Regions from separate parts of the Homo sapiens genome. Here region 1 is linked to region 2. The links come from fine-mapping of genetic effects on plasma protein levels. Region 2 holds a variant in brackets. A gene starts in the other region. All regions are shown on their forward strands. Region 1 holds the start of SEMA3G (semaphorin 3G). Region 2 holds the start of CLPS (colipase).

What was found. PIP is the chance, under the fine-mapping model, that this variant and not a neighbour inherited with it causes the effect. The UK Biobank Pharma Proteomics Project read protein levels with antibody pairs (Olink). The fine-mapping took linkage between variants from a reference panel, not from the people measured, so its PIPs are less certain.
Region 1: it holds the start of SEMA3G, and the variant in region 2 is fine-mapped to the plasma level of the SEMA3G protein (UK Biobank, PIP above 0.99).

Annotation. Positions count from the first base shown.
Region 1 is chr3:52,442,433-52,445,499 of GRCh38, forward strand. SEMA3G (semaphorin 3G) reads right to left here and starts at 2,671. Exons shown (of 16, transcript NM_020163.3): 1 at 2,481-2,671; 2 at 315-475; 3 at 127-189. The coding sequence starts at 2,595. RefSeq lists enhancers at 1,768-2,644, 2,645-3,067.
Region 2 is chr6:35,789,950-35,798,464 of GRCh38, forward strand. It overlaps CLPS (colipase), which reads right to left and starts at 7,374. Exons shown (of 3, transcript NM_001832.4): 1 at 7,256-7,374; 2 at 5,782-5,904; 3 at 5,033-5,328. The coding sequence starts at 7,339. The coding sequence ends at 5,197. It also overlaps a transcript of CLPSL1 not described here. The variant C/A (reference allele first, on the strand shown) is at 3,958.

The DNA.
Region 1 (3,067 bases), not on the chromosome of region 2:
CTTCAAAAGCCCTCAAGATCTGCTCCAAATGCCCCTGGTAGAGGTACCTGGGGCGTGGTCACGGATTGTCCTGGGGGTCAGGGCAGGGTGTCAGGTCGGGGGACCATCCCTCCCGACAGCACTCACCAAAGGATCTCTTCCCTTTCGAACACACTCCTCCCTCTGTCCTGGCTGCGGTGGCCACAGGACCTGGAACACAGCCCCGCTGACCTCAGGTCCTCCCCTGATCTCACAGGCTCAGTTTCCCCATCTGGCCTCCCATCTGGAGGTGCCCAGTTCTCAAACAGACCCTCTTCCCTGCCAGTCCAGCTCACCTCCCGGGGATCTGGCCATGCCTGGTCCAGCCGCAGAGAGTAGAGGGCGTCCAGGCCACCCAGAAAGAGGCGGTCTCGGTACTCATCTAGGTACATGGCCTGGAGGTTCAGGGAGCCCTGGGGGCCCAGAAAGATGGCAGAGCGGTTGGCAGACAGGAGGTCTAGGAGGATGTATGGGGAGGCAGATCAGGGCCACAGCTCAGCCTAGTTCCCCAGCCAAGGAGTGGAGGTGGAGGCCCCGGCTGAGCATCCACCCCTGACACACTCACATCTGGAAAATGTTTCCATCCACATGGTGCTGGAAGGCTTTCGGACCATGGCTCCTGGGGACAGGTGGGACGGGAGGCTCAGAGCCTCCCACCTGGCCCAGCCTACCCTGGGGCCTACCTCCCACCCCTCCATTCCTTAGCCCTTCATCATGCAGCTAACATCTTCCCACTGTCCCATCTGTGCCCTACCCAGTCCCCAGGGAAGAAGGCCCCAACCAGCAGAAACTAGAGCAAAGTGCTGGAAGATCCTGGAGGAAGGGCGGGAGTCTTTGCAGGCCGCCTGGCTCAGCTGGAGGGTGGGCCAGCAGGCGAAACTGTTCCCAGCAGAGGGGACCCCTGGCAATGGCCTGGGTGCAGAAAAGGGAAGGTATGGCCGGGAAGGGCTCCCACCTCCAGTCCAGGGATGCGGCCAAAGACAATTTTCTCCCCACAGATGCTGGCTATCCCACCCCAGAGATGAGAGCGGGGAGCTGTCTGGGGACATCGGTCCCAGGAGTTGAGGATCCTGAGGTAGGTCCTCCGGGCTTGGCTAGGGAGGTGGAGGTAATGGGGGCAGTAGGATGTGGCAGGAAGAGGGTGCTGGCCACCTTTGGGAAGGCCCAGAGTGTCCTATGCCTTCCCTACGGAAGCACCTCTACCCAACACCCATTCCACCCCCAAAACTCATCAACGGTCTCTTCCGGGAAGCCCTCCATGGATGACAGTACCTTGGGGAACTTTCCCTATTTGGGGCTTTTTCTAGCAGTCTGACCTCCCCGCAAAACCACAGCTCCCGGAACAAGACCACATTCCCCTCAGCCTCTCCAGGGACGAGCGCCATCTCCCCCAGCAGACTGGGCTTCCCAGGGGAAGGTGGTCACCCCTCTGGTTTCCTCAGGAAGGATCTGCCAAGAGCCTGTCTCGGGCCTTCCCTGGGCCCATCCGTGGAGGCCTGAGCCGGCTCACATGTCTAGGGTAGAACACAGGAACCCCCAGGCTGGGATGTGCAAAAAGGGGAGGTGAAACTCCCCCTGGGCTGGGGCGCTTCTTGGGTGCAGGAGCACATGAACAAGCCCACTCTGGGAAGTGGGCTGCAAGGGGGGTCCTCCCCTTCTCTGTGGCCCCAGGACCAAGGGATAGCATGCTGCCTGCTCTCCCGTTGGCCACCCTGGGCAAAAAGTGCCAGTTGAGCCCAGACAGACCCTTCAGCCCCACCCTCTCTGTCACTCTCCCCTGCCTGGTCCCTTCCTCTGTCTCCTCCCCATCTTTATTGAGCTCTCTCAGGGTCTCCATCTGTCCCTTTCTCAGCACTCCCCCTCAGGTGCCTCCCACCGCCACCCTGGTCCTGTCTCCCAGGACCTGCCTCCCTCCCACTCCCCGAGAGCTGTGCAGGGAGAGGCTCCCTCCCCTACAGCTGACCAGGCACCCAAGAGCCCAAGCCACCCAAACAGGGCACACGCACACAAACAGGGCACACGCACCCAAACAGGGCACACGCACACAAACATGGCACACGCACACAAACTCGGCACACGCACCCAAACAGGGCACACGCACACAAACTCGGCACACGCACACAAACACTGCACACGCACCCAAACAGGGCACACGCACACAAACACGGCACATGCACCCAAACAGGGCACACGCACACAAACAGGGCACACGCACACAAACACGGCACACGCAAACTCGGCACACGCACACAAACTCGGCACACGCACACAAACACGGCACACGCAAACTCGGCACACGCACACAAACTCGGCACACGCACACAAACACTGCACATGCACACAAACACGGCACACGCACCCAAACAGGGCACATGCACACAAACACGGCACATGCACCCAAACAGAGCGCACACACACAAACAGGGCACATGCACACAAACAGGGCACGCAGGGGCTGGTACCTCGGTAGGAGAGCCGCAGGCGGGGCACACTGGGGCCGGGGCTGGGGCCAGAGCTACCCCCATGGAGCAGGAGGCCCCCTAGCAGCCAGCAAATGGCCCAGGCCGAGGGGGCCATGCTGGGGAACTGAGGGCACCGCTGCCGCCTGCCTGCAGAGCCGCCCTCTGGTCCCGCTGGCCGCCGGTTGTAGTTTGCTCTGCTGCCACCAGGCCACCACTTATAAGGCAGTGGCTCCACCCAGTCCTGGGCGGGAAGAGGGGCGGAGGAGAGAAGGAGGCTGGGGCCTTGCCGTCCACCTGCCGCTTCTCCTTCCACCTTGTTGGCCCAGTGCAGGCTTTTGTGCCACACTGGCCAGCTCCCCATTGGGAAGACCTTCCCAGCTAGGGCACAGGCCATGTGTACAGAGATGTCCACAAATGCAGGTCCCCAGGCTCCAGCAAAGTGACAAGTGGGGAGAGAGCCTGGAAGGGAGGTCAGGGATCAGAGGTTAAAGTTGATGGGCTGGGTAGGGGCCTAGCTGGGCTCTGCCTTGTTCTCTGCCCCTCCACTGCCCACAGCAGAGACCTTCCAAACTGGCCCTGCCCCAATT
Region 2 (8,515 bases):
AGGGTCTCACTCTGTCACCCAGGCTAGAGTGCAGTGGCTCCATCTCAGCTCACTGCAGCCTCATCCTTCTGGGCTCAAGTGATTTTCCCATCTCAGCCTCCTGAGTAACTGGGACCACAGGTGTGCGCTACCACACCTAACTAATTTTTAAGATTTTTGTAGAGATGGGGAGGGGGAGATCTCACCATGTTGCCCAGGCTGGTCTCAAACTCCTGGCCTCAAGCAATCCTGCCTCAGCCTCTCAAAATGCTGGGATTACAGGCATGAGCCACTGTGCCCGGCTGAAATTTCACTTTTTTCCAATATTGGATATTTTCATCCAGGAATATAAAATGCTTTAAAACAAAGTTGTTAATTTTTTTAATAAACGTTTTTAGCCTAATAAGGAAAAAAAAGAAACAAAAAAGAAAGGGAGTTGGGGAAGATACGTTGCTGACATGACTAAACTGGTTCCAAGTGTTGGGGGAGGAAAACTTTTCCTCTATCCTCTTAGGTTCAGTACTTGAAGGCCTGAGAATTAAACCGATAAAAGAGAAATGACCGATTTTTATTCAGAATGTAGGGAAGTTCATGGAAGAGTGTGACTCTAGAAGGAAGTTAGAATTTGCGGGTTATGTACCATCTCAATAGAAGAAGGGGAGGAGGAGAAAGGACACTTATAGAAAAGTAATTTTTAGGAAAGATGAATGGGCCCTTAGGAGAAAAGATGGGAGCTATTATAGTTTCGTGACCTGACTGTTTAGGTGTGGTGCCAACTATTCTCCCCTCCAGCAATAAGTCAATTTTCCCTGGTTTTGAGAAACTCCTGGGAGGGGGATTTATGACAATGGAGCTCTTTTGCAGGGCTCTGCATTTAGGCAGACAAAGGAGTTCAGAAAAGAGCCTATTCTCATCCAGCCTGGGCAGCATTGCGAAACCCTGTGTCTGAAAACAAACAACAACAGCAACATAGCCGGTGGTGGCACGCACGTGTAGTCCTAGCTACTTAGGAGGCTGAGGCAGGAGGATCACTTGAGCACCAGGAGGTTGAGGCTGCAGTGAGCCATGGTCGCACCACTGCATTCCAGCCTGGGTGACAGAGCAAGACTCTGTCTCAAAAAAAAAAAAAAGAAAGAAAGAAAAGAAAAAGGCCCATTTTCAAATGCCTTCTGCTCAGAATAATTTTTATGCTTCAGTGGCATTCTCTAGACCCCTTCACAAGCCATGGGGATTCCGCTGCCCTATGGGAAAAGTGGTCATTGGTAGAGGCTGCCGTTGTCAGAATCCAGAGAGATTTGTAGGGAATAAAGTACAGATGCTCCTTGACTTACGATGGGGCTACATCCTGATAAACACATTGTTTAAGTTGAAAATATCGTAAGTTGAAAATACGTTTAATAGGCCGGGCACGGGGGCTCACGCCTGTAATCCTAGCACTTTGGGAGGCTGAGGCAGGCGGATCACAAGGTCAGGAGTTCGAGACCAGCCTGACCAACATGGTGAAACCCCGTCTCTACTAAAAATACAAAAATTAGCTGGGCGTGGAGGGCACGCCTGTAATCCCAGCTACTCGGGAGGCTGAGGCAGGAGAATCACTTGAACCCGGGAGGCGGAGGTTGCAGCGAGCCGAGATCGTGCCATTGCATTCCGGCCTGGGTGACAGAGTTAGACTCTGTCTCCAAAAAAAAAAAAAGAAAAAGAAAAAGAAAATACATTTAATGGGCAGGTGTGGTGGCTTGTGCCTGTAATCCCAGCACTTTAGGAGGTTGAGGTGGGCGGATTGCTTGAGCCTAGGAGTTTAAGACCAGTGTGGGCATCATGGTGAAACCCCATCTCCACTAAAAATATAAAAATTAACTCCGGGCATGGAGGCTCACACCTATAATCCTAGCACTTTCGGAGGCCTAGGTGGGCAGATTGCCTGAGCTCAGGAGTTCGCAACCAGCCTGGGCAACATGGTGAAACCCCATCTCTACTAAAAATACAAATAAATAAATAAATAAATAAATTAGCTGGACGTGGTGGCATGTGCCTGTAGTCCCAGCTACTCGGGAGGCTGATTCAGGAGAATTGCTTGAACCTGGGAGGCAGAGGCTGCAGTGAGCCGAGATCGCACTATTGCACTCCACTCTGGGCAACAGAGACAGACTCCATCTTCCCCCCGCCACAAAAATAAATAAATAAATAAATAAATAAATTAGCCAGGCATGGTGGCACACGCCTATAGTTCTAGCACTTGGGGAACTGAGGTGGGAGGATCACTTGAGCCCAGGATGTCAAGGCTGTAGTGAGCCATGATCATGCCACTGCATTCCAGCCTGGGTCACAGAGTGAGACCCTGTCTCAAAAAAAAAAAAAAGTATTTAATACACCTAACCTACTGAATATCATAGCTTAGCTTAGCCTACCTTAAATGTGCTCAATCAGAATGCTTACATTAGCTGGGAAAAATAACACAAAGCCTATTTTAGAATAAAGTGTCGAATATATCTCATGTAATTTATTGATGTTCTACTGAATGCATATTGCTTTTGCACCATCATAAAGTTGAAAAATTGTCAGTCAAACCATTGTAAGTGGGGACCATCTGGTTCCTTGAGCTGTGGTTAGACTGTGCCTCTGCTGTGTAGGCGTGTGATGCTGAAAAGCAGCAGAAATTGAGAGTCTACAGGAGCACTGGCCGTTGGAAATAAAATGGAAGCTACATAATGGTTGGGGTCTTGGTCACTTGCTTCTGCAGAGCCCAAAGCCCAACTCCCTACTCACTTTTGAAGACCAGGGACATTTTCCTTATGCCCCCCACAGTCCAAAACACGGTGCCAGGCACACTGTGGTCATTCAGTGAACACATGAAGGGGACATGAATGCAGATCTCCAGGACCGAATGTGGCACCAAGAAGCGTGACTCAGCCCTGCTCAGGGCCTGAGACCCCTCCTGGGTTAAGGTATTGAAAGCTCCTCTTGTTGAGCACATAATTCATATGTGGCAGACACCATTACCTGGTTTCCTAATAGCCATTGCCCCCTTCCCTGCCAACTGAAACCCAATATTGTTTGGGCATCAATGAACCTGGCCCCAGGAGAAGGATCTTATTCCCTTTGCTTTCCCAGCGTCCCTTGCAGCTAGAAGTAGTCAGATAACCTAGTTCTAGCCACTGAGATATGAAGAGAAGTCGGCCTTGAGGATTTGAGGAAAGATAAGAAGAGGGTATGGTCCAGGTGCCATGGTTCATGCCTGTAATCCCAGCACTTTGGGAGGCCGAGGCAGGTGGATCACCTGAGGTAAGGAATTCAAGATCAGCCTGGCCAACATGGTGAAACCCTGTCTCTACTAAAAATGCAAAAAATCAGCCAGGCGTGGTGGCAGGCGCCTGTAGTCCCAGCTACTTGGGAGGCTGAAGCAGGAGAATCGCATGAACCCAGGAGGCAGAAGTTGCAGGGAGCCGAGATCGTGCCACTGCACTCTGGCTTGGGCAACAAGAGCAAAACTCTGTCTCAAAAAAAAAAAAAAAAAGGGTATGCAAGAAGAAACTCTCTGCTCCTTCTCCCGCCTTCCCAGCTGCCAGCTACTCCATGCTTCCTGCCTTCGAATACGGTGAGAACGTGAAGTCATGAGCTGCTGCTAAGGCATGTGGCAACCTTGAAGAGAAGGTCAAGAGCTACCAGCCACCAAAAGAATGCCAGCACTTCCTGTGTCTTTGCTTTGGATTCATGAGAAATATACGTTCCTATTTGCTTCAGCCATAATTACTTGGGTTTTTCTGCTACTCACAGTTGAATGCAATCCTAACTCATAAGCCTGTGGTTACAGGAGGATTCATTGATCACAGAACTGCAAGATCCTGGGGCTGGGACGACATCGAAGTTTCATTCAGTTCACTGTCCCTCACTCTCTGTGGGAATCTCCTCTCTAGCATCTCCACCGAGGGGTCAGTGAGCTTCCACCTGCGTACCTGGATGATGGGCACCTCAGTACTG[C/A]CTAAGGTAACTCATGTTTGATGGCTCCAGGGGATATACAATTTTTATATTAAGGCAAAATTAAATTCCTTGCAGTTTCCACCCATTTTTCTTAATGCGAATAATTGGGAAAGAAAAAGGAATCATAAGGCCGGGCACGGTGGCTCATACCTGTAATCCCAGCACTTTGGGAGGCTGAGGTGGTGGATCACCTGGGGTCAGGAGTTTGAGACCAGCCTGGCCAACACGATGAAACCCCGTCTCTACTAAAAACACAAAAATTAGCCGGGCGTGGTGGTAGGCGCCTGTAATCCCAGCTACTAGGGGAGGCTGGGGCAGGAGAATCGCTTGAACCTGGGAGGTGGAGGTTGCAGTGAGCCAAGAGATCACTCCGCTGCACTCCAGTCTGGGCAACAGAGAGAGACTCTGTTTCAGAAAAAAAAAAAAAAAGGAATCATAGAAGCAGGGCAGTGGAGTTAGATGGTAGAGTGCCAACATTTTCTGATTATGTGACATTGGGCAAGCTCCTCTCTGAAACTTGGTCTCTATCTATAAAGTGGAGATGAGAAATTCTCCCTCCTGGGATCCTTGTGAGCATTTGCTGGCAGAGAGTAAGCTCATAGCAATTGAGAGTGGTCTGACCCCTTAACACATGAGTTGTGTCAGCTAGCTGTCATATTTGAGAATTGTGTCCAGAAAAGAGGTGAGAGCCCAGGATTCTGATGCCTCTGATGCAGGGTGACGAACATGGGCCATTAAAACTCCTTACCCACAAGTGTGTGTGTGTGTGTGTGTGTGTGTGTGTGTGTATGTGCGCGCGCATGCACATGTGCCCGCTTGTCTCTTTGAGAACCGGAGGGACAAGGAGGGCATCCCAGGTAGGTGTGACTTCTCCCCAGAAATGGAGGGTTTCCTAGGCTGGCTGGGTCTCCTTCACAGCTTTGTCTTCAGTCTCCAATCTGTTTGGCCACAACTTCTTCAGCCCCAGACCCATCCCTTGTTCTTCTGACCTGCCTGAAGCCTGCCCTGGTGGACCAAAGGCCTGATGCAACTTCAGAGAAGATGCTGAGTCAGAAAGAATATGCAGGAGACTGGGAAAGGTTTGCAGGAGGCCTTTAATTGTGAAGAGCGCAATCAGAAAACAGATATGCTGGTCAAGGAGGTGGCCAGCCCGGGAGATGCGCTGGAGCAGGGGAGAGATGCCCCTGCGCCTAGTGGCCTACAGCATTCTGGGCTAGGTGTGGGAGTGGGTGGGCAGTCTCACTGCTTGGAGCGTCCAGCGTCATGGCAGATGCCAAAGTTGGTGTTGGTGATGGAGCCCACGATGGTCTTGTCTCCCTCACAGGTCAGGCCACGCTCACAGGGACACTTGTAGTAAATCCCATAGAGCGTCTGCAGAGACACAGCCAATGGAGTCAAGGCTATGGGGAGATACTTTGGACATCACTTGTCCCCTGCCTGACCTAGAGAACCAGTAGGCCAGCCTGTGTTTTCGGGGAGTGCCTCTCCCACCTGCCTCCCCAGGGGTGCCGTGGGCCCTGGAGACCCCAGCTCTGACCTCTGCTCTGGCTCATTTGCTCTTACTAGCTTGATCTCTCTGGGGAGCCTCTATTTACCCAGCCATGAAATGGGGATAACAAATCCCCACCCCCACCCATCTCACTGGTCACTCGGGAGGGTCAAGAGAGATGATGGGATGGGAAAGTGCTTTGACACCTGTCGACCTCCCTCTCGTCTCCTCAACATTCAGTGTCCAGGCTGACCCCCCTCCCTGATCCCACTCACAAGTGTTCAGGGCCCTACTCCCCATTCTCCCCCACCCACGCCAAGTCCTCAGGCACCCACCTTGACAGAGCACTCGCTGTTCTCGCTGGCCATGGATGTGCAGCGGGCCAGGCCCAGCGCACTTGAATGCTGGCAGCAATTGCTCTTACACTGGGCACTATTCATGCAGAGCTCACCGTTCTCCTGCCAGGAGCAGCCAGTCAGCCCAGGCCCCACTCCCTCAGGTCCCTTCTCCATTCAGACCTGTACCCACCACACACTACCACTAACAGTGTCTCCCCTGGTAGGGATGTGTGTGAAGGAGTCCATCCCCTGGGTCTGGTGGCCTCTGTGCCCCCCACCCACGTGAGAAGTGGGCATGCGGTGACAGAGAAGCAGACTTGCACAGAGGGTCAGGACCCCTGGGTTCTAGTACCGGCTGTGCTACCAACCTCCTGTGTGACTCTGGGCAAGTCACTGCCTCCCAAGCCTCAGTGTTCCCATTTGGAATGTGCACACAAGGCCCCTAGACAAGTTCTCCAAACCACTCTGGGTCCCACACCTCTTTAAGGAGGCGGTGAAGATTGCATCTCCCTGCAAGACTCCTTCCTCCCCCAACAGATCTGATCTATAATCTCCAAGGGTCCTGGACCTCCAAGTCCAGCCATGGCCCCAAGTTAAGAGAGTTCAGAACCTTTCAACCGCATGGACGTTCTGGAAGGGCTTTCCCAGCCAAGACCCATGGTGGAGAGGTGGTGTGGGGCAGTGGTGGGGCCCCAGCTGAACCACTTTCCAGCTATGTGACCTCAGGCAGGTTGCTCACCCTCTCTCTGTCTGAAGACAGGGCTGACTCTGAAAACACCTCCCTCAGTGGTTATTATGAGAACAGAATGAGTAAACATCTCCGAGGCATCTCCATAAGTCAGAAGCTGGAATGATTGGCGCAAAGCATTTTCTCAGGATGGAAGCCCAGGGCTCTGGATTTTTACAAAGCTCCCTCGTAGGGCCAGGTGAGGTGGCTCATGCCTGTAATCCCAGCACTTTGGGAGGCCGAGGTGGGCGGATCACGAGGTCAGGAGTTTGAGACTAGCCTGGGCAACATGGTGAAACCCTATTTCTACTAAAAATACAAAAAATAGCTGAGCGTTATGGCAGGCACCTGTAATCCCAGCTTCTTGGGAGGCTGAGGCAGGAGAATCATTTGAACCCGGGAAGCAGAGATTGCAGTGAGCCGAGATTGTGCCACTACACTCCAGCCTGGTGACAGAGCAAGACTCCGTTTCAAAAAGAAAAAAAAGAAAAAAAAGGTCCCTCATAGCCAGGTTGAGCTGCTGCTCTGAGCATGCTCCAGTTGGAGCTGGAGAGGGGCTGATCAGCCTTTCCTGTGGCCTCTGGGAAGAGGCATAGGACAGGACATGGAAGTAAACAGAGGGATGCAAGATGCCACTCCTCCCAGCCCCTGCCAGTCCAGGTGGAGACATCAGAGGTCAAGGTCCAAGCTTAGGAAGTCTTCATCTGGGGACTCAGGAGGCGCCTCCCCTGAAGACCCTCTTACCAGGTTGATAATGATCCCCCGGGGGCCAGGAGCTGCATAGGCCACAGAGAGGGCGACAAGCAGGAGGATCAGGATCTTCTCCATGGTGAGTGGGACAGCTGGTGTGGGTGGCGGGAGACAGAGCCAGCTGTGGTGATGGGGCTATAAAAGGGGCCCTGACCTCACGAGATCCACCTGCATCCCACAGGGCTGGCCGTGGGCAGAGGCACAGCTGTGGCCAATCTGCTGTGGGGCGGTTCCTGATAAGGAAACTGGGTGAGTACCTGGTGGCCTTTTTCGTGTGTGTGTGTGTGTGTGTGTGTGTGTGTGTGTGTGTGTTGGTGATAATTGTGTTGCATCGTGGTTAAGAGTATGGACTGTGTACAAGTTATTAGTGAGGCAAACTTACTATCTGTTCCAACTATTCTGCCTTTCATCTTATCTGTCAACTAAGGATAATTTAAAGAGTTGTGAGGGTTGAATTAATACACATTTATGTGTTACATATATATAAACATTATTATATACAATTATAAGAATATATTTATATTGTATATTCCCATATGCCACATAAGCAGTGGGTAAGGGTGGCTGCCCTTGTGTCTTGAGCTCCTGGGCAGTGCCTGGACGAATCCAAGGCAAGAGAGGCACCTATGGTGTGAGTGCCTGCTTACATTCTGTGTACTTGGGGCCTCTCTGCCTCACTATAGTCAGGCCTTGCCTTTGGCCCACCCAAGCCCAGGTGTCTAGCAGTGTCAGACTCCAGGGACGAGGATCCTAGCCTCCCACCCCTCAACCTTCCTTCAGTCTCCTCGGGGGATTCCAGGCCATGCCCAGATCCCTGGGGCTGACAGTTCTGCAACCCCCAGCAGGCCAGGGTGTGTGTGCTTTCACTTTGGCACCCTCCCCCTGCCCTCACACCAGGGGCTGCCTGCAGGCCTGACTCAAGGGCCCTTAGGAGGCCCTTCCTAAATGCCTCTCTCCCCTTTCCTTTCTACCTCACTTACTATCTGCAATTCCAGCATCAGATACTCACCCCTTTAGTTAAGGTTTCCACTCACGCTGCCCCCTACCCAAGGCCACGTGCGCGCGTGAGCAGTCGCTAGTCCTGGCTGAGAATGAAGAGGTCTCATGAGCCTCAGATGGAGCAGGGGCCTCAGGAAGCTGGGAAGGGCACAGCTGCCTGAGTTTGCTCAGGCATGGGAACAGAGCAGCTTTTCCTGAAGGACTAGTCATGGCAGCCAGAGGCCCCTGCCCTTCCCCTCTCCATCCCAGGAGGTA